Linked DNA regions of Homo sapiens: all the other regions are linked to region 1. Evidence: fine-mapped expression QTL. A gene starts in region 1. Each other region holds a variant in brackets. All regions are shown on one strand. Distances are from middle to middle.

Region 1 (10,063 bases):
TCACTGCAACCTCTGCCTCCCAGGTTCAAGCAATTCTCCTGCCTCAGCCTCCTGAGTAGCTGGGATTACAGGCACACGCCACCATGCCCAGCTAATGTTTTTATATTTTTAGTAGAGATAGGGTTTCACCATATTGGCCAGGCTGTTCTTGAACTTCTGACCTCAAGTGATCCACCCACCTCGGCCTCCCAAAGTGCTGGGATTACAGGCGTGAGCCACCGCGCCCGGCCTACACATTCTTTAATTTCTTTTAATTCCTGTTCCACCACATCCTGGTCGCCCTTGCCCTGGGCTCCCTGTGGAGGCAGGAACGGCCCCATCATCGCAGCCACCAGAATCCAGTCCCGGGGGTCTAACAGGTCCCACTCAGTACCCAGAGGCAAAAATGGGCATGGCCAGAAAGCGTGTCTCAGAGCCCCTCCACCTCCTCCCCACCCCCCACCCTGGGACCCCAAATAGCCCAGGCTGCTGCACCACCACTGCCCTGGGACATCACACTGCGAGCCAGGGCTGCCCGGCCCCACCCTTGCCCAAGGCTGCTTCCTGGGCAAGGATGCAACCAGCTGGCTCCAGCTGCAGGGCTGCCAGGCACCCCAAGGTGAGGGACAGGGGCCCAGCTCCTGAGAGGGCTGGATCACAGGGTCGGGACACTGGCCGCTGAGAAGGAGCATGGGCTGCTGGGTGGAGATGAGTGCGTGCCGTCACTGCAGAAGGTGGCCCACACCTGCCTCCCATCCGTTTGTGTCCTGTCTGTCCCCATGTCCGCAGCTGCAGCCGAAGCCATATGGTGTCACCAGTGCACGGGCTTCGGAGGGTGCTCCCATGGATCCAGATGCCTGAGGGACTCCACCCACTGTGTCACCACTGCCACCCGTAAGTGGGAACAGTGGTGGGCTGGCCACGTCCTTCTTGCCCAGGTGGGAAGATGTGGGCTCAGAGGGTGACAGAGCCAGATCCAGGCACCCAGTAAGTCAGAAGCATAGTGGGGAGTGTCCGCCAGTGATGCCCAGGGAAGGGTATGAGCAAAGGGCCACGTCTGCCCCAGGAGGGCCCGTATGCTTCATGTACCTGGGGCGTCTGACCCTCAGCTCAGTGGCAGATGGGGCAGCAGGGTCTGGGCAAACCAGAGCCTCAGGGAGCTCCATGGTTTCTCTCCTGCCCACTCAGGGGTCCTCAGCAACACCGAGGATTTGCCTCTGGTCACCAAGATGTGCCACATAGGCTGCCCCGATATCCCCAGCCTGGGCCTGGGCCCCTACGTATCCATCGCTTGCTGCCAGACCAGCCTCTGCAACCATGACTGACGGCTGCCCTCCTCCAGGCCCCCGGACGCTCAGCCCCCACAGCCCCCACAGCCTGGCGCCAGGGCTCACAGCTGCCCCTCCCTCGAGACTGGCCAGCCCACCTCTCCCGGCCTCTGCAGCCACCGTCCAGCACCGCTTGTCCTAGGGAAGTCCTGCGTGGAGTCTTGCCTCAATCTGCTGCCGTCCAAGCCTGGGGCCCATCGTGCCTGCCGCCCCTTCAGGTCCCGACCTCCCCACAATAAAATGTGATTGGATCGTGTGGTACAAGCTATGCAGTGAGAGTGGAGTCCTGCCATCCTGGGCTTGGGAGTAGAGTGGAGTAGATTTGGGGGTGCCTCGCTCCCTCACCCCAGGCTAAACCCTACTACCCCACCCCCACTTGCCCTTATCACGGAACAGGCCCTCCCGCCTCCAGCCAACTGTCAGGCCTGAAGGGCACGGGGGCCCAGGCACCCCGGGCAGCTGCTTCTCCTGAAGCAGCTAGAGTGGGAGTTGGGGCTGGGGCACATGAGGAGCCCTCCACCCCAGAGCGTGAGTTGGGAAACCTCAGAAAAAGGACACCCCGGCTGAGACATGGAGGCTGTGCGGGGTGGAGGAAGGGAGGAGGTGCCATTGGCAAAGACGGCTGCAGCAGGCCTTCTGGAATAGGGAGAAGAGTGAGGCGGCATCCTCACCCTCGCCCTCATACATGCCCCTGGGCCAGTGGCCCGGCCTGCCCCTCTCTAGGAAACCCCCAGTTCTGGCAGGGAACACCACCTCCAGCTCCTCTGGGCCACTGGGTACCCAGCACACAAGGCAGGGTGCTGGGGAGAGATGCTGGGAGTGGGATGAATCAGACTGAGGTGATGGGCAGCTGTGGCCACCCATCTCAGGGTGGACATGGAAACTAGGTAAGTGATGTTTGTGGAAGTTGATCACTCCCTAGGCAACATTGCGTCATGGCCGAGCTTCGGGCTGCAAGGTTGAATGAGACCCCCACATAAGCCTGGCACTCCCCTCGGAGAGGCCGAGGTGAGTCAATACCTGCAGCACCCAGATCCCCCCGACTGAGTTAGCACCTGCCAAGAAACACACCGCCAGGCCCTTTCCTTGGCCTTTCTTGTTCTCACCTTGGCAACGTTCTCATGAAGAATCAGCACAGGAGAAAGCTGATGCAATTGTTAAGCTGCTCCACAAGGAGGGGGTGTCTCAGGCAGGGCCGCCGGACACTCAGGTGCAGGACAACTTTCAGAGTAGCCCCGGGCACAGAAGAAGACATAAACAGGGTGCGCTGGAGATACCCAGATAAGCTCAAGAATTGAGGTGACAATGGAGCACTTCTCAGATCTGCAGGAGAGGGACAGGGCTCACTGGCAGCCGCCGTGGAGCACTGTGGAGAGAACAGGATAAGGCTGGATCATCACCTCTCTCGCTACAGCCAAAGGCATGCCAACTGAATGAGAGGTTTCGATGTAAAAAGAGGAGGTTTTTTAATGCTAGATAATTCAGAATAGAAAAGCAAGACACGTTCCTGAAAGGATTGGACAGAGTTGCTGTAAACACAGCAATTCCACCCCCGCCCCCCCACCTGGTCCAAATTCCACCCCCAGGCCAAATTCCACGCCCAGGCATGGCCCAAGAAGAGTAAACACGAGTCCACACAAAAGCCTGTGCACAAACATTCACAGTGGCATTATTCATAGCAGACAAAAGGCGGGAAAAACCCAAATGCCCATCAACTGATGGAGGGATCACAGAGATGACAGACCCACACCACAGAATGTTATTCAGCCACATAAAGGAATGAAGCCCCGACCCACGCCAAAACACGGGAGAGCCTTGAAAACACGCGGGGGGTGCTTGAAAACACGATGCTAAGTGAGACAGAAGCCGCGCACAACAGGCCAAGCAGTGTACAGTTCTATTTCTCAGAAGTGGCCGGAATAGGGAGCTCTATAGGGAGGAAAAGGAGATGAGTGGTTGCTAGGTGGTGGCAGGGATTATTAAGAAATACGGAAAGGCCGGGTGTGGCGGCTCACGCCTGTATTCCCAGCACACTGGGAGGCCGAGGAGGGTGGATCACCTGAGGTCAGGAGTTTGAGACCAGCCTGAGCAACATGGTGAGACTCCGTTTCTACTAAAAATACAAAAATTAGCCAGGTGTGGTGGCGCATGCCCGTAATCCCAGCCACTTGGGAGGCTGAGGCACGAGAATCACTTGAACCAGGGAGGCGGAGGTTGCAGTGAGCTAAGATGGTGCCACTGCACTCCAGCCTGGGCAAAGGAGCGAGACTCCATCTTAAAAAGCAAACAAACAAACAAACAAAAAGAAATAGGGAAAAGCCAGAGTACTTTTCCTGCTCTCACACAATACAGTACTTCACCCCATCACCAAAGTGTGTGTATTTCTCTCCACCAGCAACCAAGCCACACTGCCGTGGACACCAACTGGATGTCCTCAATTCAATTCCGACACCATTCCTGTGGCGGTCACGTCAGATCCCGCAGGTGGAGGGCTCAGTGCCACGCAGTGAGCCCCACTTCCAATGCCAGTCGCAAGCCCCAGGTGTGGCCCGTGCTTCTGACCAACCTGCCATGAATCAGGGTTCCCACAACCCCCTCCTCGGGTTTGATGACTTGCTGGAGCGGCTCATAGAACTCAGGGACACACTGAGCCGCGTTTACCCATTTATGACACAGGCTGTGACGAAGGTGTGGACGCACAGCAGGTGGGGGAGACGCGTGGGGCAGGCACAGGGAGGGGCTCAGAGCTTCCAGGCCCTCCCAGTGCCACCCCCAGACACCTGCGCATGTTCTGCTCTCGGAGGCTCCCTGAGCCCTGTCCTTTTGGGAAATTTACAGAGGCTTCATTACGTAGGCATGATGGATTAAACTACTGGCCACTGACCAACCCAACCTGCAGCCCCTCCCCTCCCCTGAAGGCTGGGGGTGGGGCTGAAGTCCCAGCTCTCTAATCCCGTTGTCCCTCATCCTGAAGCTCCCTGGGGACCCCCAGTCACCAGTCCTCTCATTAGCATACAAAAGATGCCCTTGCCACTCCAGAGATTCCAAGGGTTTTAAGAGCTGTATGTCAGGAAACCAAAATATCCATCTCACAATCTCACAAAATAAGCAATGTCAGAAAACCAAAATATCCATCTCACAATCTCACAAAATAACCACTTCACGTTCTCACAGTGAATGGAGCAAAGATAGCGCTGAAGCGTTCAAGGTTTCTTTTCAAGATGATGAAAATGGGCTAAAACTGCGAATATGGTAAAAACCACTGAGTTACCCACTGTAAACGGGTGGATTGTATGGTGCGTGAGAAACCACTGAATTACCCACTGTAAATGGGTGGATTGTATGCTGTGTGAGAAACCACTGAATTAGCCACTGTAAACGGGTGGATTGTATGGTGCGTGAGAAACCACTGAATTAGCCACTGTAAACGGGTGGATTGTATGGTGCGTGAGAAACCACTGAATTACCCACTGTAAACGGGTGGATTGTATGGTGCGTGAGAAACCACTGAATTACCCACTGTAAACGGGTGGATTGTATGCTGCATGACAAACCACTGAATTACCCACTGTAAACGGGTGGATTGTATGGTGCGTGAGAAACCACTGAATTAGCCACTGTAAACGGGTGGATTGTATGGTGCGTGAGAAACCACTGAATTACCCACTGTAAACGGGTGGATTGTATGGTGCGTGAGAAACCACTGAATTACCCACTGTAAACGGGTGGATTGTATGCTGCATGACAAACCACTGAATTACCCACTGTAAACGGGTGGATTGTATGGTGCGTGAGAAACCACTGAATTAGCCACTGTAAACGGGTGGATTGTATGGTGCGTGAGAAACCACTGAATTACCCACTGTAAACGGGTGGATTGTATGCTGCGTGACAAACCACTGAATTACCCACTGTAAACGGGTGGATTGTATGGTGCGTGAGAAACCACTGAATTACCCACTGTAAACGGGTGGATTGGATGGTGCGTGACAAACCACTGAATTAACCACTGTAAACGGGTGGATTGGATGGTGCGTGACAAACCACTGAATTACCCACTGTAAACGGGTGGATTGGATGGTGCGTGAGAAACCACTGAATTACCCACTGTAAACGGGTGGATTGTATGCTGCGTGAGAAACCACTGAATTACCCACTGTAAACGGGTGGATTGTATGCTGCGTGAGAAACCACTGAGTTACCCACTGTAAACGGGTGGATTGTATGGTACGTGAAAAACCACTGAGTTACCCACTGTAAACGGGTGGATTGTATGGTGCGTGACAAACCACTGAGTTACCCACTGTAAACGGGTGGATTGTATGGTGCGTGACAAACCACTGAGTTACCCACTGTAAATGGGTGGATTGTATGGTGCGTGAAAAACCACTGAATTACCCACTGTAAACGGGTGGATTGTATGGTACGTGACAAACCACTGAATTACCCACTGTAAACGGGTGGATTGTATGCTGCGTGAGAAACCACTGAGTTACCCACTGTAAACGGGTGGATTGTATGGTACGTGAAAAACCACTGAGTTACCCACTGTAAACGGGTGGATTGTATGCTGCGTGAGAAACCACTGAATTAGCCACTGTAAACGGGTGGATTGTATGGTGCGTGAGAAACCACTGAATTACCCACTGTAAACGGGTGGATTGGATGGTGCGTGACAAACCACTGAATTACCCACTGTAAATGGGTGGATTGTATGGTGCGTGAGAAACCACTGAGTTACCCACTGTAAACGGGTGGATTGTATGGTGCGTGAAGTATATTCAATAAAGCTGTTAAAATTTTTTTTAAAAGAAAAGACACAAAACCGGGATTGGGATTCATAAATACTACCTAAAAATCTAAAATAAAAGAAAAGAAAAGAAAAGAAAAAAAGAATAAACAAACTGAAGGACGAGACAAACAAGGAAATATTTGCCACGCATGTAACACGCGATGATTCCCTCCACACATAACGTCCACAAAAAGAGTCAAACTCTGTAAAATATTCGAAGACATTTATTCTGAGCCAAATATAAGGGGCCATAGCCCACGACACAGCCCTCAGGAGACCCTGAGAACATGTGCCCAAGGTGGCTGGGGCACAGTCTGGTTTTAGGGATACTGAAGACATCAATCAAATACATGGAAGATATACATTTCTCCATCCGGAAAGGCAGGACAACTCCAGCGGACGAGGTGGGGGCGGGGTGGGGGGGGGGGTGGGATTCCAGGTTTTAGGTAGATTTAAAAATTTTCTGATTGGCAATTGGTTGAAAGAGTTAAGATTATCTAAAGAGCTGGAATCAATGGAAAGGAATGTGTGGATTACAAGGGGGGTGGAGACCAGGGTTTTATCGTCAGATGAAGCCTCCAGGTAGCAGGCTTCCGAGACAATAGATGGTAAATGCTTCTCCTCAGACTGAAGGTCTGTGTTGATGTTAACGGTGGTCAGCTTTTCCTGAATTCCAGGAGGGAGGAGGGATGATGAGGCTGTCCAACCCTTTCCCGGCATGATCCGAACCAGTTTTTCAGGTTCACTTTGGAATACCCTAGTCAAGAAGAGGGTCCATTCAGATGGTTGTGGAGGGCCTTAGAATTTTATTTTTGGTTTACAGTAAATAATCCTTCGAGATTCCCAAAGAGCAGCAGATATGAGCAGCAGGTTTCCAGAAAAAGCCATTCAAGTGGCCAAGCCAAGGAGAAGAAATTCACCCGTACTGGGAATCACAGAGGTGCCAAGCAGAATTGCAAACCCCCAAGCAGGAGAGCGACCAGGCCACGCGGCGAGAAAGGACACGGACCAACCTCGGTGCTGTCCCAGATGCAGCCCTCGCAGGACAAATCAGCCCTGTCCAGGAAACTTCAAAATGCCACTAGCATTTCGTTGAATGCTGGCTCCCTAAAATGTCACCAAAAACCCAAGGACAGGTCACCCCAGCTCCCTCCAGCACTCCTGGGATTTGAGTCTGATTTGAGGTAGGTCTTCCAATGAGGGGGCTCCATTAGTGTTGAGCCAGGACTCGGAAAAAGTAGTTTAGAATTTTGAGGCCATGGGTTCTGAGTCTTGAGGTGTCCCCTAACAGTTTCTATTGAAGAGTCAATAGGCCTTTCGGGAAGATCCTCAATAAATGATAGCCATTTGCTGCTTTATCTTCCTGGAAGCGTGAAGCTCAGGAATGAAGATGCAGGGTGGAAAGTCATGGTCTAGGCCAGGCACAGTGTCTCACCCCTGTAATCTCAGCACTTTGGGAGGCCAAGGTGGGCGGATCACTTGAGGTCAGGAGTTCAAGACCAGCCTGGCCAACATGGTGAAACTCCATCTCTACTAAAAATAGGAAAATTAGCCGGGCATGCTGGCATGAGCCTCTAATCCCATCTACTCAGGAGGCTGAGGCAGGAGAATCACTTGAATCCGGGAGGCAGAGGTTGCAGTGAGGCCCGTCTCTACTAAAAATATGAAAATTAGCCGGGCGTGGTGGCATGCACCTATAATCCCAGCTGCTCAGGAGGCTGAGGCAGGAGAGTCATTTGAACCCAGGAAGCAGAGGTTGCAGTGAGCTGAGATAGCACCGTTGCACTCCAGCCTTTGATAGAAGGAGACTCTGTCAAAAAAAAAAAAAAAAGGGAAGGGGAGGGGAGGGGATCGTGGTCCCATGAACAGTGAGCCCTGTGGGTGGAGTTGGCTCCAGTTCTCAGTGTGATCAAGCCCTGCTCCTACCCGCTGCTCCTAACAGGGTAGGGGGCAAAGAACATGCACAGACACATGTTCCCTGCAGTTTTCCCATCACGAAGCTGCAGGGGAGCTAACCTGCGTGGGTGCAGAGGGTGGCACTGGAGGACACATCCCTTCTGGAAGGACACGGGAGACCTCTTTCCAACGTACAACGCTTGGCGCTGTTTGTGCCTCCACTTCCTTTTCAACATAGGAACACTGGTTTAGGAGCCATTGGCCTGCCCTGCTGGATGACCGGGAGAGCCGGAGCCCAGGTGGGGCAGCCCTTGAGACTCCCGGGAGACCACCCTGAGGCAGGCTGCGCAGGAAGGCTCGCTGGGCCCTGGAGCTGCAGTGGCAGAGAGAGCTCCTCTGGGTTCTGGGTGAGGGTGGGTATTGCCAACATAAATTGGGAGGGACTGAGCAGGGGACAAGGCCACAGAGGGGAACAGTGCCAGCTCCTACAGGGCTCTGCGTGTCAGACTCAGGATTGTGTCTCCTGCCCACTCAGCACCTCTAAGCCTGACTCCTTCCAGCCAGCCCCCAGGCCTCACTGGACTCTGCCAGCCCTCCCTGAGCCTTGCTGGCATCTAGCCTGGAAGGGTGCCCCAGGCCTGAACTTTTGACACTTCCTTTTCCCCGTCCACCCAGGAAGCTGCCCGAATAGAGGAGTTCCACTTTTGGAGGCAAAAAAACAAATGAGGCCATCTCATACGAGTGTGATCAGAAACTGCCCTGCCCCGGGCTTGGCCACAGCCTCCCACATGGGGCCTGGGGACCCCTGCCCCAAAGCTGAGGTGCTCACAGCACAAAACGTGAACAGGGTGAGAGGACGGAAGAGAAGCCACCAAGAGCAGAGCAGGCGGGGCTGTTCACCTGGGTGCAGGGGAGAGGCCCCCAGTGCTGCCCCTGTGGCACCTCACTGTGGCTTGGAGCCAGCAGGGAGCCCAGCCTGTGTTGGTGGAAGGCCCAGGCCTCCACCCACAACCTTGCCAGGGCACCGCCTCGTGCTGCAGGGGCTGGAAAACCACAGCTCCCTTTCCCAGGGGCCCTGGAGCCTAGGGGCGACTTCTATTTCCTGAATATGGAAGGCAGGAATCCAGGCAAGGCACCTACTTCTCTGCTGGCTGCGTGGGGTCCTGGCTCGCGGGGCTTCTGGGCCGCAGGCCACCTTGCAAAGGTATACATGTGAAGGCAGTGGCTCCTGCATAGGCCCCGCCCACCGCCTCCCTGATAAGCAGTGGGCGTGGGGTCTCATTCCAGGAGTCTTTCCTCAAGACCCATTGAGGCCATCAGAAGGCATTACCTACAAGTGACCCTTGAGGGTCAGATTCTGGAGCTGGTCATCTGACCTCTGAGGGTCCCATCAGCCGAGAAGATGGGCGGCAACAAATCAGCTTCCAAATCCCTCCCCTGGGATGAGGTGGCCACGGAAGGTGAGGCTTTGGGGACGGCATGTGGCTGCACTTCATCATAAGGGTGGGAAGGGGGAAGGCAAGAGCAGACGCCAGAAGCCACCTCCGGTGAACCTCAGCACTTGTGGAGAGAATGACAAAGTCGGGGGTTTTACTGTTTGGTGCAAGATGCAGCCAGGGATGGAACATGTCTGCCAGTGGCAGAAAAGGAAGACAGAGACTGAAGCTGGAGGAGGATGCAGTGCGCGTGGCTGACTGGCAGGTGGAGGGGTCACCCAAGGAGGAATGGGGGCCCTGGAGCAGACAGCAGCCTCCGCAGATGCCAGCAAGGAAACAGGGATGTCAGCCCTGCAACCTCAAGGACCCGGATTCTGCCAGTGCCTGAGTGAGGCTGAAGATTCCTTCTGGAGCCTCCAGGTGGAGTCCAGCCCCACCACACCTCGACTGTGGCCTGTGGGACCCTGAGCAGAGAGCCCAGCCGAACCCACAAGGCAAGAAAGGCCGGAGCTAAAAATGGGTGTGGTTTTGAACCCCTAAGTGTAGGGTGATTTGCTACCCAGCAATAGACACTAGTGCAGCCTGAGGCTCGGTTTTAAACCCCTAAGTGTAGGGTGATTTGCTACCCAGCA
Region 2 (10,063 bases), 11 kb before region 1:
TGGCCTTTGGCATCCTGGGGTTGGCCTGGGCAAATGTGTCGTGAGAGACGGATTTGTTGTTCTCGGGAAGGCGTAAGTTTAATTTAGTCCTCCAGGACGGAGACCGAGGGCCGAGTATCCCGGCAGGGGTAGGAGAGCCGTAATCCAACCCCCACCTCCCCACTGTAAACCTCTTTCCAGAGAGGGCATTCCCGTTCCAAACACCAGACCCAGCCGGGGAAATGCTTCTTCTTGTCTGGCCCAAGTGCCCTCCTGGGAGGGGCTCAAAATGCATTCCCCCCAAGCTGGGCACAGCTCATCCCTGCTGGGGAGCTTCTGCAGTGGCCGAGGACTCAGACAACCCTAACCAGGGCTCTGGAGGTCTTCTGGAAGAAGGAACCCCAAGTAGGGACACCCCAGGAGCAGAGAGGAGGGGAACAGCGAGAAGAGACCCAGCTTTTGGGCCCAGTCCTGCCATGGCCAGCCATCCGGCCCCCAGGGCCCTGCTTGGGATGGGGCTGCAGACCACCTCCCATGGGACCTCTGCACCAACCATCCCCTGGGTAAAATCCTTGTTTAGGCCTGGTATTTAAGGCCCCTCTGCCCATCCCTACTCCTTCTCTAGCACTGCCCCTCATCCTCCCCCCATCTCTCCTCCATCCAGCGCTACAGGCTGTTTTGAGCTTTTGCAGGTGCTGGTCTCTGATTGAAATGTCCTGATCTCTTCTCCCTTCTTGTCCCATCCCAAGTGTCTCCTCCTCCAGGAAACCTTCCCTGACACCCACTGAGTTAGGTGGCCCCTCTGCCCACCATCATCCCTGCCCAGGCCCCCATGGGTCCTTCAGGCCCAGTACTGACCACCTGTCTTTGCCACCTGCTGTGCAGGGTTGCAGCACTCCCAGTAGACCAGGAGCTCCGGGAGGCAGGGCCGGCCCCACGTCCTCTGCGCACCACCCTGAGTTGGATCCTCTGTGCGCCACCCCTGAGTTGGATCCAGGGCTAGCTGCTGTTGACCTCCCCACTCCCACGCTGCCCTCCTGCCTGCAGCCATGACGCCCCTGCTCACCCTGATCCTGGTGGTCCTCATGGGCTTACCTCTGGGTAAGATGGACAAAGGACAGAGGGATGGGCAGACCCACTTTGAGGGCAGATGGGCTGACAGTAGGGAAGGAGGCTAGAATTCCCAGCGACAACCCCTCCTTCTAGCCCCCTGCCCCGGGGAAGGTGACGGGCTGGGGGCCTGATGGGCTGGAGGAGGGGCCTCTCATGTTCTGTGACCCCCGTTCCCTTCCCGCCCATCTGCCAACCCCAGCCCAGGCCTTGGACTGCCACGTGTGTGCCTACAACGGAGACAACTGCTTCAACCCCATGCGCTGCCCGGCTATGGTTGCCTACTGCATGACCACGCGCACCTGTGAGTCTGGGGGCCCTGCGTGGCCCTGCCTGGGGAGCACGAAGGGGAGGTTCTGCCCTGCCCCTGAGCATGCGGGGGTCCTGAGGAAGGAGGCTCTCCTGTTCCCGGATCCTGTCTGGGAGCTCCAGGCTGAGGGGCCCTGCCCTGATGGCTGTGGATGCTGGGGTGGGGCCAGCTGGGTCTCCTGCCCCTCTTAGCGGAGCTGGCTCACCGCCCCGCCCCTCTGCAGACTACACCCCCACCAGGATGAAGGTCAGTAAGTCCTGCGTGCCCCGCTGCTTCGAGACTGTGTATGATGGCTACTCCAAGCACGCGTCCACCACCTCCTGCTGCCAGTACGACCTCTGCAACGGCACCGGCCTTGCCACCCCGGCCACCCTGGCCCTGGCCCCCATCCTCCTGGCCACCCTCTGGGGTCTCCTCTAAAGCCCCCGAGGCAGACCCACTCAAGAACAAAGCTCTCGAGACACACTGCTACACCCTCGCACCCAGCTCACCCTGCCTCACCCTCCACACTCCCTGCGACCTCCTCAGCCATGCCCAGGGTCAGGACTGTGGGCAAGAAGACACCCGACCTCCCCCAACCACCACACGACCTCACTTCGAGGCCTTGACCTTTCGATGCTGTGTGGGATCCCAAAAGTGTCCGGCTTTGATGGGCTGATCAGCCCCTCGCCTGTCCAGGGCTATTTATGGGGAGGGGCCCAGTCAGGCAGGGAGCACTGAGCAGATGGGAGCTGTGGCCAAGCCCACCTTCTGGGAAGCCCTAGGAGAGGCCCCTGCCTCAGTCTGCCCCTGGTGTGCTGGGGCAGGGGGAAGACAAGGAATGCCCGCAGGTGGGGTGGTGGGGAGACTCTTAGGAGGAAAGGCTCCTCCAGGCCTAGTCACGCTTCCTACTGAGGCCAGGAGCTGCCAGGACCGGTACGGGATCAGGGCTGTGGGAGGAGGGCCTTTGGCACCGGCCCCTGTGCTAGGAAGTCTGCCAGGCCCGAGTTGGAGCCACCCCCTGCAGGGGAGGGGGCGGCTCTGCCTCAGCAGGCCCCAGGGCCCCCGAAGTCACAGAAGCTTTTTCGGGTCCAGCAAGGGGTGTGTGTCCTCTCAGTCAAACCCCTTGACGTTTCCCACCCCCTCACGGGGAGGGCACCAGGCCTGAAGCTGGCAGGAGCTAGGGCCATGCTATATTTGGTGGGTCCTGGACGCTGACCCGGCCAGCGCTATTCTGGGCAGGGAGGGAAAGGGGCAGAGCAGGTGGTCCCCCGAGTCCTGGTCCCCAACCACAGCAGGACCCAGCCGAGCAAGGCAAAAGACGCAGGACTGGGGGATGCGCGCACAGGCTGGGGGTTGGGAGCAGCCTGGGGCCGGCGCGGGCCTGGGCGTGGGAAGGCGGAGCATGCCACCCTCTCGTGGCCGTGCGGGGGCGGGAGTGGGGAGGGTGGGGTGGGGAGGGCGGAGACCCAGCCCCTCCCCCGCAGCGGGATGCGCACAGTGAGTGGGTCCCTCCATCACCTTCCACCTGGGGATGCACCCACTGGGAGGGCAGGGTGGAAGCCCCAGCTGGGTGTGTGGACTCCCAGGGACCCCACCCCAGGCCTGGGAAGCAGGGGTCAGCCCAACACGCACCAATCCATCCCCGATGCAGGTAGCCCAGGGAGCACCTGCCCCTGCTGTGAATGGGGCATTCGGGGGCGTGAGACCTTTTGGTGCCAGCGGTCACGCTGCACCTGAGGCCCCCACCTGACCAGTGCTCCCAGCTCTGGTGTCCTGAGAAACCCTTCAAGCCATCCCGCATGGGCAGGATGGTGACATATCCATGTGGTAGGATTGTCCCGGCCCCAAAGTATGGCCCTGGTCAGGGGAGCCCCTGCTGGAAATTGCATCTCCAGAGCTTTGATGCAGGACCCCTGGGGGATCAGGGAATGAGGGTCTCCACCCCAGGGGTCTCCTTGCAGTGAGTCTATATGCAGGCCTGCGTTCTGCTCCTGGGGCTGGTTCTGAGTGCCCAGCTTCAGTCTCCTGAGAACATGAGGATGGGAGGGGGCAGAGTCTTGCTGAGGGCACACCCAGTTCCCGCTGGAGGAGGACAGTGCCAGTCTTCTGCAAAGGGACCTTGGGTGGGAACGGGCCCGGAGCGGGAGGAACGTGACTCCCCAGAGGGAAGATGGGCATCATACTGGGCCCAGAGCTGGGAAGGAGTTGCTGCCAGCACAGGGTGGGCCTGGACTCCCCTCGCCCCTACCCCCAGTGGTTGTGGCTGTAGCCCTAAGCCTGGAGAGCAGGACCGGCCCGGGGTGTCTGGGAGGCTGCCAGGTGCCTCCCAGAGCTCCCAAGGGCCCCCACCTGCAAGTGCCAGCCTCAGGGCAGTGCCCAAATGAGGCCCTCTCAGCTGCAGCCAGCGATGCCTTGGGATGCTTACCGGGAGGGAGGCGGCTTTGGGCTCCTAAGTCCTTGGGAGAGGCTGGGAGCAGTCACTGCGCGGCTTGCGCAAGCCCATTGTCGGGTTGGGTGGCTTCCTCAGCCAGGGCTGGGAGGGACTCCAGGATCAGGTCCTCCCTGTCTCGAGTCTCAGTGGGGTGATGGGGAGGAGACCTGGCCACCCATGGCTCAGGGGCAGCTGAGAACAAGGACCTGCTGGAGCTGGAAGTGCTGTGGTGTTGAGGGGTGGGGTGGGCAGCTTCTCACACCTGCCTCCTGCCTCCTTCTGTCCACCTTTCCACCACCCTGACCTGTCCCAGCCCCACACATGGTTCTGCCTGGCTGGCCTGCCCTTGGCACCTGGCGTAGAGCACACAGAAGGCACTCAGCTAATGCTGGGCAGGCCCACTCATGGGGAGTGCGTGGCTGTGCAGCACCAGGGAACCGGCACAGCAGCGCCGGCAGAAATCACAGCAGTAAACTTGTCCGGGTTGTATGCATCAAGGTGGCGATGGACGTGGGTCCCCCCACTGCACTGTGGCCCTGAGCACTGTATAGCAGCCCGGCAATGGGAGCCATTATCTTGCCCCTTTGACAGAGGAGGACACAGAGGCACAGGGAGGTGAAGTAGCTGCCCCACACTAGTGCCTCCTCGCTCACTCACCACCCCCTGCACCACAGTGCAGCCGCTTCTCCCACCAGCTGGGGTTCCTTGGACCCCCAAGCCTGGGAAGGGGGAGGTGAGTTTACAAAATGGAAAGCTTAAAAGGAGAAAAGTGGAACCAGAGGTTTGAGAAGCCCTGAGTGGTAGAGTAAGGCCTCCAGCGCTGCCTCTGGGTGCAGGGCAGAGTGGCAGAGGAGAGGGGGAGAGGCACTGGGCACCATGGGGGCCCAGTTCCCACTTCGGGGATCTCTCTCGCAGAACCGAGGGTCCCCTTCATGGGGGTAGATGCCCAGGGCTAGCTGTTGCCACTGTCTGTGTGGACCTGAGTCCTGGACATGCCCGAGTGACTCAGGAGTGGCTGCTTGGGCGGGCTCTGTCACCCTAGGATGTTATACATTCTGGGAACTGGACAGGAGTGGCTGCTTGGGCGGGCTCTGGCACCCTGGGATGTTATACATTCTGGGAACTGGACAGGAGTGGCTGCTTGGGTGGGCTCTGGCACCCTGGGATGTTATACATTCTGGGAACTGCAATCAGCCACTAGAGAAGTCGGAGCTACAGGAAGTGACCCTGGGGTGGGACCTGGGGACATGGCCAGGTCAGCATGGGGACACCCGGCTCCAGCAGGAGCTCTGGTCTGTCCTGGGGTCTTTGGGGGCAGGGCTGCGGCCCTGGGCAGGCTTCCTCCAGGCGGAGGTCCTGGGGAAGTGGGGGAGCCAGGCCAGCTGCCGCCTCCCCCACTATGTAGCATCTGATTCGTCATCTCTCATGAAGGCGATTTGGTTCATAACTCTGAAACTCTGAAAAAGGTCAAAAGAAGCAGAGAGGCCCTCGGTGGATATGCCAGCTTTTCTGCCGGTGCTTTCTCCCACTACTCTGGGTGGTCTGCTCTCCTCTTCAAACCTCAGCTCGCAGGGAGGGCCTGAATCTGCCAGCCCCTCAGGATCTCCTTCCCTCTGGGCCCTCCCCAGCCTTAAGGAGCCTCCCAGACAGAAGGGTGGACAGAGCCACCTGGGCAGCCCGAGAGACACACGGGGGTCCTCCCTGTGGACAGCCCTGCCAGCTTCCGCCCAGCCCTGAGCTTCATTTGCATCTTGAGGAGTAAGGGGTGGTGAAATGGGAATGCTGGTCTGGCTCAGCTGGTCGTGGGCATAAGTGCCCGCTGAATGGATGGCATCTCTCCCTCCTGTCTTATGTTCTGGGGTCCAGGTGCTTCCCAGGGCCATGCCCCTGCTGCTAATGCTTGCCCTAACCCTTACCCTAACCAGCGTCCAGCGTCGTCTCACCGAGCCGTAAATAAATCAACAGATTCGCATTGTCTGCGCTTCTCTCCAGCCCCACTGCCT[C/T]GGCCTGAGCTCGGGCCTCACCTTTCCAGCCTGGCTGGGCTGGCACTCCAGGCTGCATGCAGCCACTTTCCTGTCTACCCTACCCGGTCCAGGTCCTGGACTTTTCTGGCCTCTAGGCCTGACCTGTCCTCGGAGCCAGGCACAGGGAGGGAGACAGGCAGGGCTCCTGGGGCTTGCTGAGAGTTGCTCCCAGTTCCGTGGGAGAGAGGCCACCCCCCACCCAGCACCCCTGAGGGGCATACAAACCCCTGAGGAAGTCTGGGTGTGCGGGGTAAGGGAGGCGGGAACTCCCCCAGGACCCCATCCCACCATCTCTGACCTCTCTGCCTACCTGGTTCCTGACCCCAGCTTCTCGACTGCCCCAGGAAGGAGGGCCTGGATCTGCCAGCCCCTCTTTCAGGATCTCCCTCCTCCTGGGCCCACCTCCCAGCCATAAGGAGCCCCCGAAACGGAGGGGTAGACAGAAGCCATGTGGGCAGCCCGAGAGACACATAGGGGTCCCCGGGTTGGCATGGCTGACTGGCTACGGACAGGCCCTTTGGGGCCCCAGCCCCTGGCCAGCCTTTGGAGGAACAGCTGATGGCTCCCGCTCTCCAGGGTGTCCCTTCTGGGCTCTTACCTTATCCTTGGGGTCCCTTTTAGTACCAAGGGCCTTTCTGTCCCCCCTACTCCTCTGCACAGATCCTGGGGCGTTAGTCACAGTGTGACAATGGCCATGATTCCCTGTACGGATGACAGAGAGGTGGCTCACAACCATGCTCCCTCTGTGTTCTCCCAGCCCTGCGGGGGTCAGGATGGGAAAGCTCTGGCTTATTTGGAGGAGGTCTTGTCATGGAACTCATTCTAGGGTGGGAGTACAGATGAAGGCCTGTGGCTTCCACCCAGCCCTGAGCTTCATGTGCATTTTGAGGCGTAAGGGGTGGGCTGGTGGCTGGTGCCCAAGACCCTCCTTCCCACCAGACCTTCCTTCCCAGCCTCTGAGGGAGACCGGCCTGTGGCCGTCACCTGCCTGGTGCCAGGCCTTCCTTCCCAGCCACTGAGGGAGAGTGGCCTGTGGCCATTGCTTGCCTGGTGCCAGGCCATTTTATCAGATCCTCAATCCTGTCAGCCAGGGCTATCCCTACTTTATGGACAAGGAGAGATGGCTCATGAGATGACACCGGCCCGCTCAGAGGCCTAACCAGCGAGCTTTGGGGCCAGGTTGGCCCCTACCGCCCGGACCCCAGCCCGGCTCCTTGACTGAGCCCGGCTGCCTGGTGACTCAGACCCGCAGAGTCTGCTGAGCGGGCGAGGGCCAGGGCGGGGTGCCAGCAGGTATAAGGCAGCCGGCCAGGGCGCCGACAGCCCGACCTCACCAGGAGAACATGCAGCTCGGCACTGGGCTCCTGCTGGCCGCCGTCCTGAGCCTGCAGCTGGGTGAGTCCAGGGGCTGGGGCCACCTCCTGCTCAAGGCCCCCATCACTCTAGCCCAACCACCGTCCCTCCAGCCCTGGGCTGTGACTGCCCACCTCGGGAGAACCCATTCCTGTCCCCCCACCATCTACCAGGTGCAGCTTTCCTCCGAAAGCCTCCTGCGATCCTGCAGGTCCATCCAGCTCAGCCCCAGCCCCCGACACTGGCCCCCACACTTCTCAGGATGCACAGCCCTTGGCTCAAACCCCCCTCTTCCTCTGCCCAGCCCCCAGACCTCTCCAGTCCACCGCGACACCCCTCACACACGCACCTTCGTGCACGTGCACACACACACTCTGAATGTGCCCCCCTCCAGCCCTCTTGGGCCTGGCCTCCCAGCTGGTTTGTCTCCTGGGGCCACCCTCCCGGGACTCCCTCTTCCCTCTTGCCTGGGAAAACCAAGTCCCTCTGCTCTCCCATCCCCAGTTCCTGCTCCCGGGTCCTCTCCTCTGCTCCCCGCTTTCCTGGGTGATTTTACCCCCTCCCCATCCCCCAACCCTCGACCCCCGCAGTGCCCACGTCTGCTACGGCTGGCCCTGTCCCCCCAGCTTCAGATCCCTTGGCCCAGGGCCTTCCTGAGGGCTCCAAGGGGATGACCCCTCAAGCACAGCTGTGCACACCTGGCCTTGGCATCCCCCAGCAGAGCCTGAACGTCTTCTCTTGGCAGGGCATCTCCACCCCCACCCTGAGGCCTCAACAAAACCAGCTGGCCCCTTGATCTGCCGGTGGCCTGCACCTCCAAGCCCAAGCAGCCCAGCCCCCCAGGGGCCAAGCCTCTGCGTCCCTGGCTGTGGGTTGAACGACCTGGGCAGCCCCTGCCTCCCAGGCCCTGAATGAGCAGGGGGTGGAGCGTCGGTGAGTCCCTGGCGCTGGCTCAGGTGTCTCTTACATCCCTCCAGTCTCCATCCCCAGGGGCACCCTCCTGGCCTATGAGAGGCTGAGCCGCTGACCCTGAGGACTGCCCCAGGGTCATGAGGGCAGACCAGCTCTGTGCTGAAGGTCCGAGACACACAGGGGCCTGGGGACTCGACTTAACCTGGAGAAGGCCTTTGTAACCATCAGGACTGGACAGGCAGTCAGGTGGCCATCCAGGCCAGGGATGGCACATCACAGGAGCCTCTGCCTGGGTGCCCGGTGCCCACGGACTCCCCTCTGACCCAGAGGCCCTTCCCTGCACCAGGGCTCCTGGAGCCCTTCCTTCTGCTGAAATCCCACCTGCCCCTCGAGGAACAAGCCCCAAGCTGCCTCACTGCTCTTCCGGTTGGAGGACTGGCGAGCCTCTCTCAGGGGCACCTGCATCCCCTGTCATTGCTTGGTGTCTGCTCTCTGCCATACATGGACAGCACAATCTCCCCGAGGGGCCAGCCTGCTTCAGAGCCAGCACGGGGGTCCCCAGTGGGAGAGACCTGCCCCCAGCCATGCAGCTACACCCAGAGCCCATCCCACCATCCTGTTTGTCCCTCCATTATTCCTGCCCCCTCCCCCCCACCCCACCTCCCTCCTCCTCTCTATTCCTCCTCCCTCCTTCCCTTCCTTCCTTCCTCTCCTCCTCCCTCCCTTCCTCTCTCCTCTTCTCCCCCTGATCTCCCCTCCCTCCCGTGTGTCAGGCGCCAGTCTGAACACTGTCCCTGTGTCCTCACAGTCACCATCGAGCAGCCTTTCCGGTTTGGAGCTAACATTTTATCTGCTTCCCTCAGGATCTCATTGCTGAAAATCAAAAACCCTCTGATAAGGGACAGAATTATTATTTCTCTTGATAACCCAACCTGCAACCACCCCCGGAATTCATTCATTCATTCATTCATTCATTCATTCATTTATTCATTCATTCTGCAAGCCTCTCCTGGGCCTCATTAAGTGCAGGGGAGGGAGCACTGAGGAATGGGTAGAACGCCCTGCCCAGCCTCAGAGGCCCTCATGCTTGGGTGGGGGTGAGGAAGGAGCCCTGAGCACAATCACTTGGAGCAGGGACACTGATGCCAGCTGGGGCAGGATGCTGCAGTTCACGGTGGGTGTGTCAGAGTTGGAACCATTCACTCTGCCCTGGAAACCAAGGAGGCCTTCCTGGAGGGGGTGGCATTTGCACCAGGGCTTGTTTTGCCCAGAGGGCAGGAGGAACAGCAAGTTCAAAGCCAGGGAGGCCTTGGGAGCGTGGGCATGTGTAGTGGACAGGCTGGAGCTGGTTCTCTCCATGGCACCCTTGGGCACCCATATCCTCACCTCCTCCTTCTGGTGCCCCAGCCTCCTGCCCATCTTCCCTGCTACCCCCCACCCCAGCCAGCTGTGGCCTGTGGCTGCCAGTGTTGAGTAGAGGCGTGTCCGACTTATTGGCTGTCACTAGGTTGGATGTGACAGCCAAGGGGAGCTTCAAGCCACTTTGGTGGGAAGGCAGAGAGGGGCTTGGAGGCAGCTGTCACCACCTTTCTTTCTCGAAGGTGGGGTCTCAGCTTGCTCTCCGGGGCTGGTAGAGGGGCCAAAGCTGATGGCAGGGGCCTGCCCTGGCCGGAACTTCCCATCTGTGTCACCTTCTCCGTGGTGCCTCGATGGAGGATTCCGCCCACAGGACCCAGGGGTGACCAGAGGACTCTGGCCCGTGGCAGGGGCCTGGTGTGCACTGAGGTCTGAGGTCAGCTCAGTGCTGGTGCATACAGAGCCATGCTGTCAGGAACCCGGGTTTGGAGCTGGCACTGACTGGGGCTGACTCCAGCCCTTCTCCACCTTTGGCAACAGTGAGGCGGGGGCAGCCCAGCAGAGATGGGATAGGGCAGGCGTGGGCTCCTGTGTCCTGAGGCTGGG
Region 3 (10,063 bases), 26 kb before region 1:
ACAAATGGTAGATTGATTGATGGATGACTGGATGGATGGAGGATGGATGATGAGTGGATGGAGAATGGATGGATGAGTCGATGGATGGATAAGTGAATGAATGGATGGGTAGACAGATGGTAGATTGATTGCTGGATGAGGGATGAATAGATGGATGGAGAATAGACAGATGAGTGGATGGATAGATGGGTGGGTGGATGAGTGGAGAATGAGTGGGCAGATGGTAGATGGATGGATGCATGGATGGATGGAGGATAGAGGATGGATGAGCAGGTATGTATTGGGAGCAAATGAAGGCAGGGGAGTGGGGGAGGAAAGTGAGGTGGGCCCTGTGCTCACCAGCCTTGAACCTACCTCATGGAGCTAAGGGTTGGCAGCCACAAGTTCCAGGCCACAACAGGAAGTAGACTGAGCTGTGGCCTAGCAGAGGGGAGAACCCAGGAGTTCAGCATTAACACAAACCCTCTGACATTCCCTAGAATGCTGGTGGGAGCATGTCCTAATGTGTGAAAATAACCCCCGTCCAGGGCACCTGATTCTCATCCAGGTTCCTTAGGTCTTGCAATTCTAGGGTTCTGTGTTCTGCAAGCCCATGCTAACAGCCTGCAGTCTTGGGACTCTGAGGTCCCCACAGTTGTTTGCGCTATGGTTCCGTGGCTCCAGGGCTGCACTCTGCTGCAACCTCTCTCCCCCTACCACAGGCTGGACACAGTTCACACCCTGAGGGATTCTCCCTCATCGCCCAGACTTTGGCACTGGGCACCCTTGACTAGCCCCCTGAATGCCAGCGCTTCGCAGGGACCATGCCGGTCCTAGGTGCTGAAATGGTGCCTCTCCCAGGGAAGGTGCCAGCCCCGCCTGTGGGCACCACCAGCCAGGCCTGGGAACAGGTTTGTTTCTCTTGGGCCTTAGGAACCTAGAGCCCCAGTCCAGCCTTTGCTGGGAACAAGCTGTGCCCCAAGGTAGAAGGGTTTCTCCATCCACGAAACTGCTCCCTAGATTGCCCCCCTGGCAGTGCAGGAAAGAGAGACCTGGCAAGGATGAGGGGCCTGTGTGGAGGGGCAGAGCTGGCCTCCATCCCCGGCCCCTGGCCCGGCCCGGCCCGGCCCATGGACACTAGGTGTACCCTGGGAGGGGTGGCTGGTAGCCAGGGTCCCAGGGGGTGACCTAAGACTAGGGCAGGGCCAGGCTTGGCCCTGGGAAGCAGGTGAAAGAGACTTTGCCTGAGATTGTGGTGCTATGTGTAAAGGTGACTCCGGCACTAGAAAGAGGAGTGGGGAGGCCAGGTGTGAGGGAAGAGCCCAGGCCCAGAGGCCCAGCCCAGCTGTGGCTCCCGCTTGCTGGGTGATGCCGGGCAAGGCCGGGCCCTTGCTGTCCATCTGAGGCCCCATCTGTGCAGGTGAGGGGGCTGAGAGGATCAGGGCAGCCTCTAGAAAGACACCACACACTCAGCCGCTCAGCTTGGGGCAGCCACCTGCCCCTGCGGGGGAAAGAGACAGAAAAGCGGCCTGGCACCTGGGCCCCAATGCCCTTGCCCGACACCCACCTGCTTACCAGGTAATGGCCACACACCCTTCCCTGCTTAGACAGCTCCAACAAGGTTGGTCCTCCCTTGGCTTCTCAGCCCCAGATCCTCACCCTCCACATCATCACACCCCTGCTGTGGGTCCCACAGAGGCAGCAATTGTCTGTTCCCACTCCCTACTGGTCTGCAGGCCCTGGGACCTGGGCCCTGTCTCTCTTCTCTCCTGGTTTCCATTATATCCAAAGTGCCTTGCATATGGTTGGTCCTTATAAAATGTTGAAGAATGAATGAATGAATGAGTGAGTGAATGAATGAATGAATGGAGTGCCTCAAGGCAGACGGATGCATTTTGGAACCCCTGGGGTGTGGCTGGGATTCTGGCTTGCCCAGGTAACAGCCTGAGGGTGAAGAAGCCCTTCCTTGTGCCCTGGGGCTTCCCAGCTCCTCCAGCCCAGGCAGCTCCTCCAGCCCAGGCAGCTCCTCCAGCCCGCGGCCCCGCCTTGTCCACCGGGCACCCACTCAGTCAGCTCCTCCAGGCCAGGGCCCTGACTTGTCCACCAGGCACCCACTCAGCCAGCTCCTCCAGCCCAGGGCCCCGCCTTGTCCACCGGGCACCCACTCAGCCAGCTTCTCCAGCCCGGGGCCCCGCCTTGTCCACCAGGCACCCATTCAGCCAGGACAGGGCCCAGGGCTGGGCTGGTGCAAGCCTGGAGTACGGTGCTGTGCCGCCCTAAGCCAGGCGCTTCCCTCTCTGAGCCACCACACCCTTGTGTGTTCCTAGGGGCCCAGCATAAGGTAGAGGGGGCAGAAGGTGGGGGAAGGGGCATGAGCAAGGAACTTCGGCTCCAGACAGAAGCCTGGGCTTGTCCCCGTGCCGGGTTTCCTGGTTCAGGGAGCAGGGGGCAAGGCTAACGGGGTGGGGCGGTGGTTTTCCCTGCCCCAGGCCCCTTCGTCGCCTCTCCCAGGTGTCATTTCTGCTGCCAATACCCTGATGGTACCAACCAGGCCCAGGGCCCCAGCTCCAGGGGCTGAGTGGGAGGGGTGGAGTGGGGGAGGGCCCAGGCCCTAGAGAACAGAGGAGGGAGGAGGGGGGAAAGGCTGGCGGTGATAGTGAGAAGTGCTTGAGACCCCACCAGGTTCTGCCCCAGAACGTGCCTGGAGCTCTCTGGCCCTCACTTCCTCACCAGTGAACAAGCACTGGGCAGGGACTGACATGAGGGGCCACAGTGTCTCCTCTCCACATTCCAATCCCTGGCTCTGAGGCTCTAGTCAGGTCACTGCCTACAAGAAACCCTCCCTGACTGCACTGTCCCCAGAAGCTCAGCTGTCCAAGGGCTCCTGGCATCAGAAGCACCCGCTTTCTCCTGAAAGTGAACTGTGTAGGGCTGCTGTTCATGCTTTTGCTAGGACCACCTGGGATGGGCAGCTCATCCTCGTGGGCAGCCCTGCCAGGTCAGAGGCCCTCATCCCACAAAACTGGAACCCCGCTCCGGCTCCCATGCCTGGCAGGGACGCAGCCACAGTGATGCCTGAGGTGTCCCACGGGGGTGAGCCAGGTGTGCAGGGCCCTCCTCCAGCCCCAGGTGTGGGGAGCACACTCCCCCATGGCCCCACACTCAGAACCCACTCTCAGGCCACCTGACATCCCGGACCCTCCAGCTCCACCAGACCCAGCAGGAATTCCAAACCTGTTTTTCCAGCAGCTCTCATGCCCCTGGCCACAGTGAGTCACCCTCCCCACCTGCCATGCCCACCGAGTCATCACCCCGCCACCAAGCCCTGAGCTCTGCCTCCCAAGGCCCCTGGAAGCACCTTCCCCCAAGCTGCCCATGCCTCTCACTGTGACCCATGGACACAGGGCCTTGGAGCTGGAGGAAACCTCCTCTCTCTGGGTGGGGGCATGGACCTTTGGGTCACCTGCCTTGGCAAGTGAGACTACACACGTCCCCACCAAGCTCCAGCCAGGGCCAGGCACCAGATGCAAATGTGGGGCTGCCCCAGGGGGCTCCCGCCTGCACCCTGGTTTCTAAAGGCACCACCAGGCAACCCCTCCTGTAGGTGGATCCTCCAGGCCCCGGCACTGTGTCAGGGAGAGCCCGGCCAGGAGCATTCTCAGGAGACATTTGCTGGGATCCCCGGCATCTGAGACGTGGGGCTCAGCAAGGGAGAGATGCCGGGAGGAAGGGCCAGAGGGTCTGTCTCAAGCCCAGGCCTGACTGGCCCCAGTACCCACGGTGCTCCCAAAAGCCTCAGCCCAGCCCAGGACCACCCTCCTCGGAACCGGCCCTGCCCTGCCCTGGGCCTGTTGTTGTCTGTTCATCAGCCACGTGGCAGCGGCGGCAGGAGGCTGGGCCCAGGGCTGACCTCCATCTGTGCCCCGGCTCCCACTCACCTTCAGCCTAGCCAGGGCAGGGGCAAAGCAAGTCTGTGGGCCCCTCCACACCACTCAGGTGGGTGCTGCCCAGCACAGGCGAGCGGCAGAGCGTGCTGGGCTGA[G/A]CAGGTGGATGGGGGCCCCAAGAGGTGGGCTCCTGCGCGAGGCGGTGGGTGCTCAGAGACCCCGTCTCCAGGGAAAGAAAGTCCCTCCTGTGAGTATAAAGAGGGTGAAGGCGGGGACTGGCCTCCACTCAACGGGCAGCAGACCAAGAACCTGCTTTGAGGCCCTGGGTGCTGGGGCCCAGCCCCAAAGAGTTCACGATTTTGGGGAGACTGGAGCCGGGACACCTAGAGCAATAGTTACAAAGTGGCCGGGATGGCGCTGCCCCCAACGTAGCAGGAGGGGCCTGGAGAGTGGGGGAAGGAATCCCACGGGGAGGGCTTCTGGGGCCCTGGAGGGCGGGAGGCAGGGCTGGTGGAGACCAGGAGGGCTCAGTCTCTCCCTGCACAACGCAGGGTGGAGTTGCTGCCTCCACAGCCCGGGCCTTCTGCCCACAGGGCTCCCCAGGCAACTTCGAGGGCCGGGTCCTCACAGTCCTCACTCTGTCCAGTGCTCACCTCACTGCTGCCCCAGCTGCCCTCCCTGCCTCGGAGTGGCCTCTGCCTCTGCCTCTGCCTCACACACCCCATCAGCCCACAGCCACCCCGAGCCCTTGCAGCTCAAGGACCTTCTGCATCCCCGGCAGCAACCCTGAGCCCAGAGCCAGGAGAGTAGGACCAGCACCTGCCCTTCCTACCTCCCCTGCCCTGGACACCCACGGGCACCCACAGGGCACCGGGCACAGGCTGCAACTCTATTGAGGGAACTATGGGGGGAATGCAGGGACAAAGACACAGGATGGTGATGGATGGTGGGGGGTGGGGGGCGGGGGGTAGCGGGTGGCAGGTCAGAGACAAAGTGACCCAGGAACGGACGGCAGCGAGAGAACAAGACCCACAGAGACAGAGAAGTGAAAGTGGGAGAGATGGAGGCACAGCAGCAGGAACAGCAGGGCCAGGAGGCCACTGGGCCCCGTTGCGGAGGGCAGACCTCTGCCTGGCGGGGGGCAGCAGGGGCAGCGCCCAGCGACAGCCAGGCTGGTGGGCGTGGGCCAGGCAGGGTGGGGCAGGTGCCCGTCCTGGGCTGACGCTTGCACAGAGCCCTGCAGAATGCCGCTGGCTGGCGGACTGCCCACCCCCGCCCAGCCCGTGCCTATAAGGCCTTGGCAATGCAGGGGCCCGCACTGCTCCCAGACGACATCAGAGATGAGGACAGCATTGCTGCTCCTTGCAGCCCTGGCTGTGGCTACAGGGCCAGGTGAGGGGCTGGGCCAAGGGGACGGGCGGGTGGGCGGCTGTGGCCTGTGTGGTCACCAAATACTAGGAGCCTGGAGCTGACGACATCTAGGCACAGAGAACCCCGACACTGTGGGTGCTAGACTCTTCAAATTTAAAACAACATGGAGCCCGAATCTTAACGAGTGTCAGATTTACAATGTTTCAGAATCTGAGGATCTTAGAACTGACTCCTGGAGTCACGGACCCTGAGAGAGTGGAGCAGGGGGTTGTCTTGAGATGCTTCTCACTGGGAGAGCGGCCATCTAGTCCCTGCCACCAGCCCCTCCCGGTCCCCAGGTCTCCCCCAGCACAGCCCAGGACAGCCCAAAGGCCACCAAGCCCTTCCTGTCATAGGCTCAGAGCAGCCAAGCTGGCTGCCCCCGGGGCCTTAGCTCCGTCAGGCCCTCAGAAACATAGCCATCTCCTCCAGGGACATCCCCTGGGGTGGGGACAAGAGCCAGTGTCCTCTTGGCAGTCGCAGAGCTCCCTGAGACCTTGGAGGAAAGGCTTGCAACACACCCTAGACAGGGGCAGGGCAGGACACCTCTTCCAAGCCGGCCCAGGCTGGAATACATGTCCCCTGAGGCTGCACTCAGGGCACATGCCCTGCCAGGACCCAGAGCCCGGGTTTGGGGGCCTAGGGCAAGGGCAGCAGGGCCTCTGTCCAGGAGGGGTCTCTGCAGGTGGGGGAGCAGGCCCTGCTGAGTCACCAGGAGGCCTCTGTTGGGCCCGCTGAGCCGGACTCCCTCCCCGCCAGCCCTTACCCTGCGCTGCCACGTGTGCACCAGCTCCAGCAACTGCAAGCATTCTGTGGTCTGCCCGGCCAGCTCTCGCTTCTGCAAGACCACGAACACAGGTGGGTAGCATCTGTCCAGGTGTCCCTGGGGCTGGGGGACATCCCTGGCTGTTGTGGGTGTTGGCTGGAAGGTTGTGGGGAGGTGGGGGGCAGAGGTGGCTGCCTGGCCTGACCACACTCACCTGTGCCCAGTGGAGCCTCTGAGGGGGAATCTGGTGAAGAAGGACTGTGCGGAGTCGTGCACACCCAGCTACACCCTGCAAGGCCAGGTCAGCAGCGGCACCAGCTCCACCCAGTGCTGCCAGGAGGACCTGTGCAATGAGAAGCTGCACAACGCTGCACCCACCCGCACCGCCCTCGCCCACAGTGCCCTCAGCCTGGGGCTGGCCCTGAGCCTCCTGGCCGTCATCTTAGCCCCCAGCCTGTGACCTTCCCCCCAGGGAAGGCCCCTCATGCCTTTCCTTCCCTTTCTCTGGGGATTCCACACCTCTCTTCCCCAGCCGCAACGGGGGTGCCAGGAGCCCCAGGCTGAGGGCTTCCCCGAAAGTCTGGGACCAGGTCCAGGTGGGCATGGAATGCTGATGACTTGGAGCAGGCCCCACAGACCCCACAGAGGATGAAGCCACCCCACAGAGGATGCAGCCCCCAGCTGCATGGAAGGTGGAGGACAGAAGCCCTGTGGATCCCCGGATTTCACACTCCTTCTGTTTTGTTGCCGTTTATTTTTGTACTCAAATCTCTACATGGAGATAAATGATTTAAACCAGTGTGGCTGTGGCTGTGCTATTCTGGGACGGAGGAGCTGAGGGGCGGATATCAGGCCACATAGGTACCCTGAGCCTCCAGCACATGTCCCCTGGGGCCAGTCGTGGGGTGATGCCTGAGGTGGCACCGTCCGTCCCCACCCTGGAAGGGGCAGGCTGCTCAGATGCCTCCCACCGCCCCAGAGGTGGAGGGCACTCCTGGGGTGAGGCCTGAGTAGGAGCACAGGGTAAGAGGGCTCGCAGGCCCCTCCCACACATAGCACCTAGGGGAGAAGGAACCCCTCAGCCTTTCACCCCGGGTCATGTCTCTGAGACCGGGGTTCAGGAGCCTCCAGAGAGGCCGGCTTGGGACACCCCAGGCCCAACCCCAGCTTTGGAGCCAAGTAGGCACTGACTACCTACAGCCATCGCCAAGGCAAGTCCAGCTGCCCAGGGAAAGTTCAGCCACCATCCAGGAAAGTCCCATGGACCCTATCTATGGGAACCCAGCAGCCCCTTGGCCAGACCTCACCAGGGTGAAGCTAGACTGGGCGGGGAGTATGACGCAGGGAATATGGGCCAGATGAGGTCGCCCAGAGGCAGGGAGGGTTCCGCACCCACTGCGTGGGTTCTGGTATTTCGGGGATGAGGTTGGGACGTGCAGTGAGATGAGGCCCCCGGCAGATGCCCCAGCAAGGGGCCCTTCCACTTCTGGAGAGGGCCAGAGGCTCCTGCAGGCTGACCACATGTCCCCGGCATGGGAAGTCTCAGGCCTCACCAGGGTCAGAGCAGAGCTCTGCCTTCCCCCAGGCCAGCTCCCTCGCAGGCCTGGCCTGGAAATTCCGTGGTGGCAGAGCCCCCTCCGGCCGCGGCCAGCAGACGGTGGCGTAGCGTGGGTGGCAGCTGGTGAGGGGTCAGTGGTGCTCCCTGGCCCTGGGTCCAGGCATTCAGCTCTTTGTCCCACACACCATGAGACCAGCACCATCACCACCCCCAGTTCCAGCTGAGGGGCTGGGGGCGAGTGGGGTGCTGGATGGTTACTGGAGGTGAAGCGTGATTTGGGAAGGCCTGCTCTTACCACCTGTCCATCCTGCCTCCCCTGGGACCCAGGGCCACTGTGCAACCCCCTCCTGGAGGGCTGCCTGCCCAGCCAAGGCACCGCGACCCAGGACTGGGTCTGGGTGAGCTTCACTGTCTCCACCTTGGGATCACCCTTCTCCACACCCAAGGCCCATCTCCCCAGGGCGGCCAAGGTGGGTCACTCCTTGCCCTGACTGAGAGACCTTAGGCAAAGCACTCCACCTCCGGGAGCCTCCATTTTCCTCCACTGGGCACCCACCTGGTGCAGCCAGCACCCCACATGCTGCCTGTGACTAAATGGTGGCCCTGGCCCTCAGCCCCCCTCCCAGCCACTGCAGGGCTGCAGGCATTTCCGTGCGCTCCTGGGGCCTCAGACCCCACCTAGTGCTCCTGCCCTTGGCTGGAACTGGGGGTGGTAATGCTGCTGGTCTCATGGTGCGTGGGACAAAGAGCTGAGTGCCTGGACCCAGGGCCAGGGAGCACCACTGACCCCTCACCAGCTGCCACCCATGCTACACCACTGTCTGCTGGCCGGGGCCGGAGGGGGCTCGGTCACCATAAGTTTTCCAGGCCAGACCTGTGAGGGAGCTGCCCTGGGGGAAGGCAGAGCTCTGCTCTGACCCAGGTGAGGCCTGAGACTTCCCATGCCGGGGGCGTGGGGTCAGCCTGCAGGAGCCTCTGGCCCTCTCCAGAAGGGGAAGGGCCCCTTGCTGGGGCATCTGCCGGGGGCCTCATCTCACTCCACGTCACAGCCTCATCCCCGAAATACCAGAACCCACGCAGTGGGTGCGGAACCCTCCCTGCCTCTGGGCGACCTCACCTGGCCCATATTCCCTGCGTCATGCTCCCCGCCCCCTCCAGTCCAGCTTCACCCTGGTGAGGTCTGGCCAAGGGGCTGCTGGGTTCCCATGGATGGGGATGGGCCCAGGCAGCTGGACTTGCCCTGGGTGGTGGCTGTGGGTAGTCAGTGTCCACATGGCTCCGAGGCTGGGGTTGGGCCTGGGGTGTTCCAAGCCGGCCTCTCTGGAGGCTCTTGAACCCCAGTCTCAGGGACATGACCCAGGGTGAAGGGGTGAGGGCGCCCCTTCTCCCCTGAGTGCTGGCATGTGGGAGGGGCCTGCGAGTGCTCCTGGAGGTCTGAGTATGAGCGCCCTCTGGTGGCCACCGGAGAGCCGGGTGCCGGGGCTCCTGCACAGGGAAAATCCGCCTTCGCCCAGGCCAGTGCCGCTCATGGCCCCATCTGTGCCCTTTTCCACTCCACTCTGGACAGGTGGCCTGAGGCCTGCCAAGCGCCCAGGGCAGGGTGTGCGAAGGCACCTGGGCATGGGAGTCGGGCAGAGAGCAGAGGGGTAGGAGTGCCTAGGCCGCAGGCCCACCCATCCCCACTTCCGTATGGGGAAACTAAGGCTGGGCAAGGGAAAGTGACTCCTGCCACTTCACGGCAGGCTGGCTGCAGGAATCCTCATCCAGGGCCCAGGGAACGGGAGTGCTCTGTGTCCAGTGCAGCCTGGAGGCAGGCGGGAATGCCACCTCCCCTACCACTCCCACCCCTGAAAGGCAGGAAACGGGGGCTGTGGCCACCAAACTCCAGGAATGAAGGAAGAGGGAGTTCTGCTGGTGGGTCAGGGAAGACTGCAAAGCAGCAGCAGGTACAGGGACAACGAAGGCAGCATGGATGAGGCTGCGTGCGGGCCCTGGGCAAAGGCCCAGGAGTGGGAGCGAACCTGCAGGATCCAGAGAGGGCTAGGCTGCCCATGTGGCTGCAATGGGGCCTGGGAGCTGGCAGGACTCCAGACCAAGCCCAAGGACAGTCACAGCTCATAGCCCATCACTGCCCTCTGCCCTGTGCCTCCAGGGGTCCCTAGCTCAGTCTCCCAGCCTCCAGGCTGCTTCTCTGTGACCCTGCTGGACAGCTCCTCAACTGTCCTGGACACAACCTGACCCCAGCCCCAGCCCCAGCCAAGACTCTGTCAGGCATCTTCAGTCCCACACAGGGCCTGCAACCTTGTAGGTGTGGACAGCGCAGCTGGCCAGAGGGGGCCGACAGCCCTGCCCCCATGTCCTGAGTGCCCCTGAAGGAGGAGCTCCCTCTGCCAGAGCCCAAGCTCAGAACTTGCAGGGAGATGCTTAGGCATAGGATTGAGTGGTGGGGCCCCAAGGCACAGCCAC

Direction of the effects. Alleles are on the strand shown, and positions count from the first base shown. SD is a standard deviation of normalised expression in the study named.
For the expression in prostate of the gene that starts at base 2,844 in region 1, C is the low allele of the variant in region 2 and T is the other (small effect, 0.37 SD a copy in GTEx).
For the expression in sigmoid colon of the gene that starts at base 2,844 in region 1, A is the high allele of the variant in region 3 and G is the other (moderate effect, 0.72 SD a copy in GTEx).

Evidence for each region. PIP is the estimated chance that this variant, and not a neighbour inherited with it, causes the effect.
Region 2: its variant is fine-mapped to the expression of SLURP2-AS1 in prostate (GTEx, PIP above 0.99).
Region 3: its variant is fine-mapped to the expression of SLURP2-AS1 in sigmoid colon (GTEx, PIP 0.90).

Annotation. Positions count from the first base shown.
Region 1 is chr8:142,755,846-142,765,908 of GRCh38, reverse strand. It overlaps SLURP2-AS1 (SLURP2 antisense RNA 1), which reads right to left and starts at 2,844. Exons shown (of 2, transcript XR_007061134.1): 1 at 2,414-2,844. LYNX1-SLURP2 (LYNX1-SLURP2 readthrough) reads left to right here. Exons shown (of 5, transcript NM_023946.5): 4 at 769-873; 5 at 1,168-1,571. The coding sequence ends at 1,304. SLURP2 (secreted LY6/PLAUR domain containing 2) reads left to right here. Exons shown (of 3, transcript NM_177458.3): 2 at 769-873; 3 at 1,168-1,571. The coding sequence ends at 1,304.
Region 2 is chr8:142,766,923-142,776,985 of GRCh38, reverse strand. It overlaps LYNX1-SLURP2 (LYNX1-SLURP2 readthrough), which reads left to right. Exons shown (of 5, transcript NM_023946.5): 2 at 865-1,080; 3 at 1,292-1,393. The coding sequence starts at 1,029. SLURP2 (secreted LY6/PLAUR domain containing 2) reads left to right here and starts at 7,158. Exons shown (of 3, transcript NM_177458.3): 1 at 7,158-7,231. The coding sequence starts at 7,180. LYNX1 (Ly6/neurotoxin 1) reads left to right here. Exons shown (of 4, transcript NM_177477.4): 2 at 865-1,080; 3 at 1,292-1,393; 4 at 1,623-5,784. The coding sequence starts at 1,029. The coding sequence ends at 1,819. The variant C/T (reference allele first, on the strand shown) is at 5,816.
Region 3 is chr8:142,781,657-142,791,719 of GRCh38, reverse strand. LY6D (lymphocyte antigen 6 family member D) reads left to right here and starts at 5,181. Exons shown (of 3, transcript NM_003695.3): 1 at 5,181-5,255; 2 at 6,033-6,131; 3 at 6,264-6,838. The coding sequence starts at 5,204. The coding sequence ends at 6,499. RefSeq lists a silencer at 9,021-9,070. The variant G/A (reference allele first, on the strand shown) is at 4,022.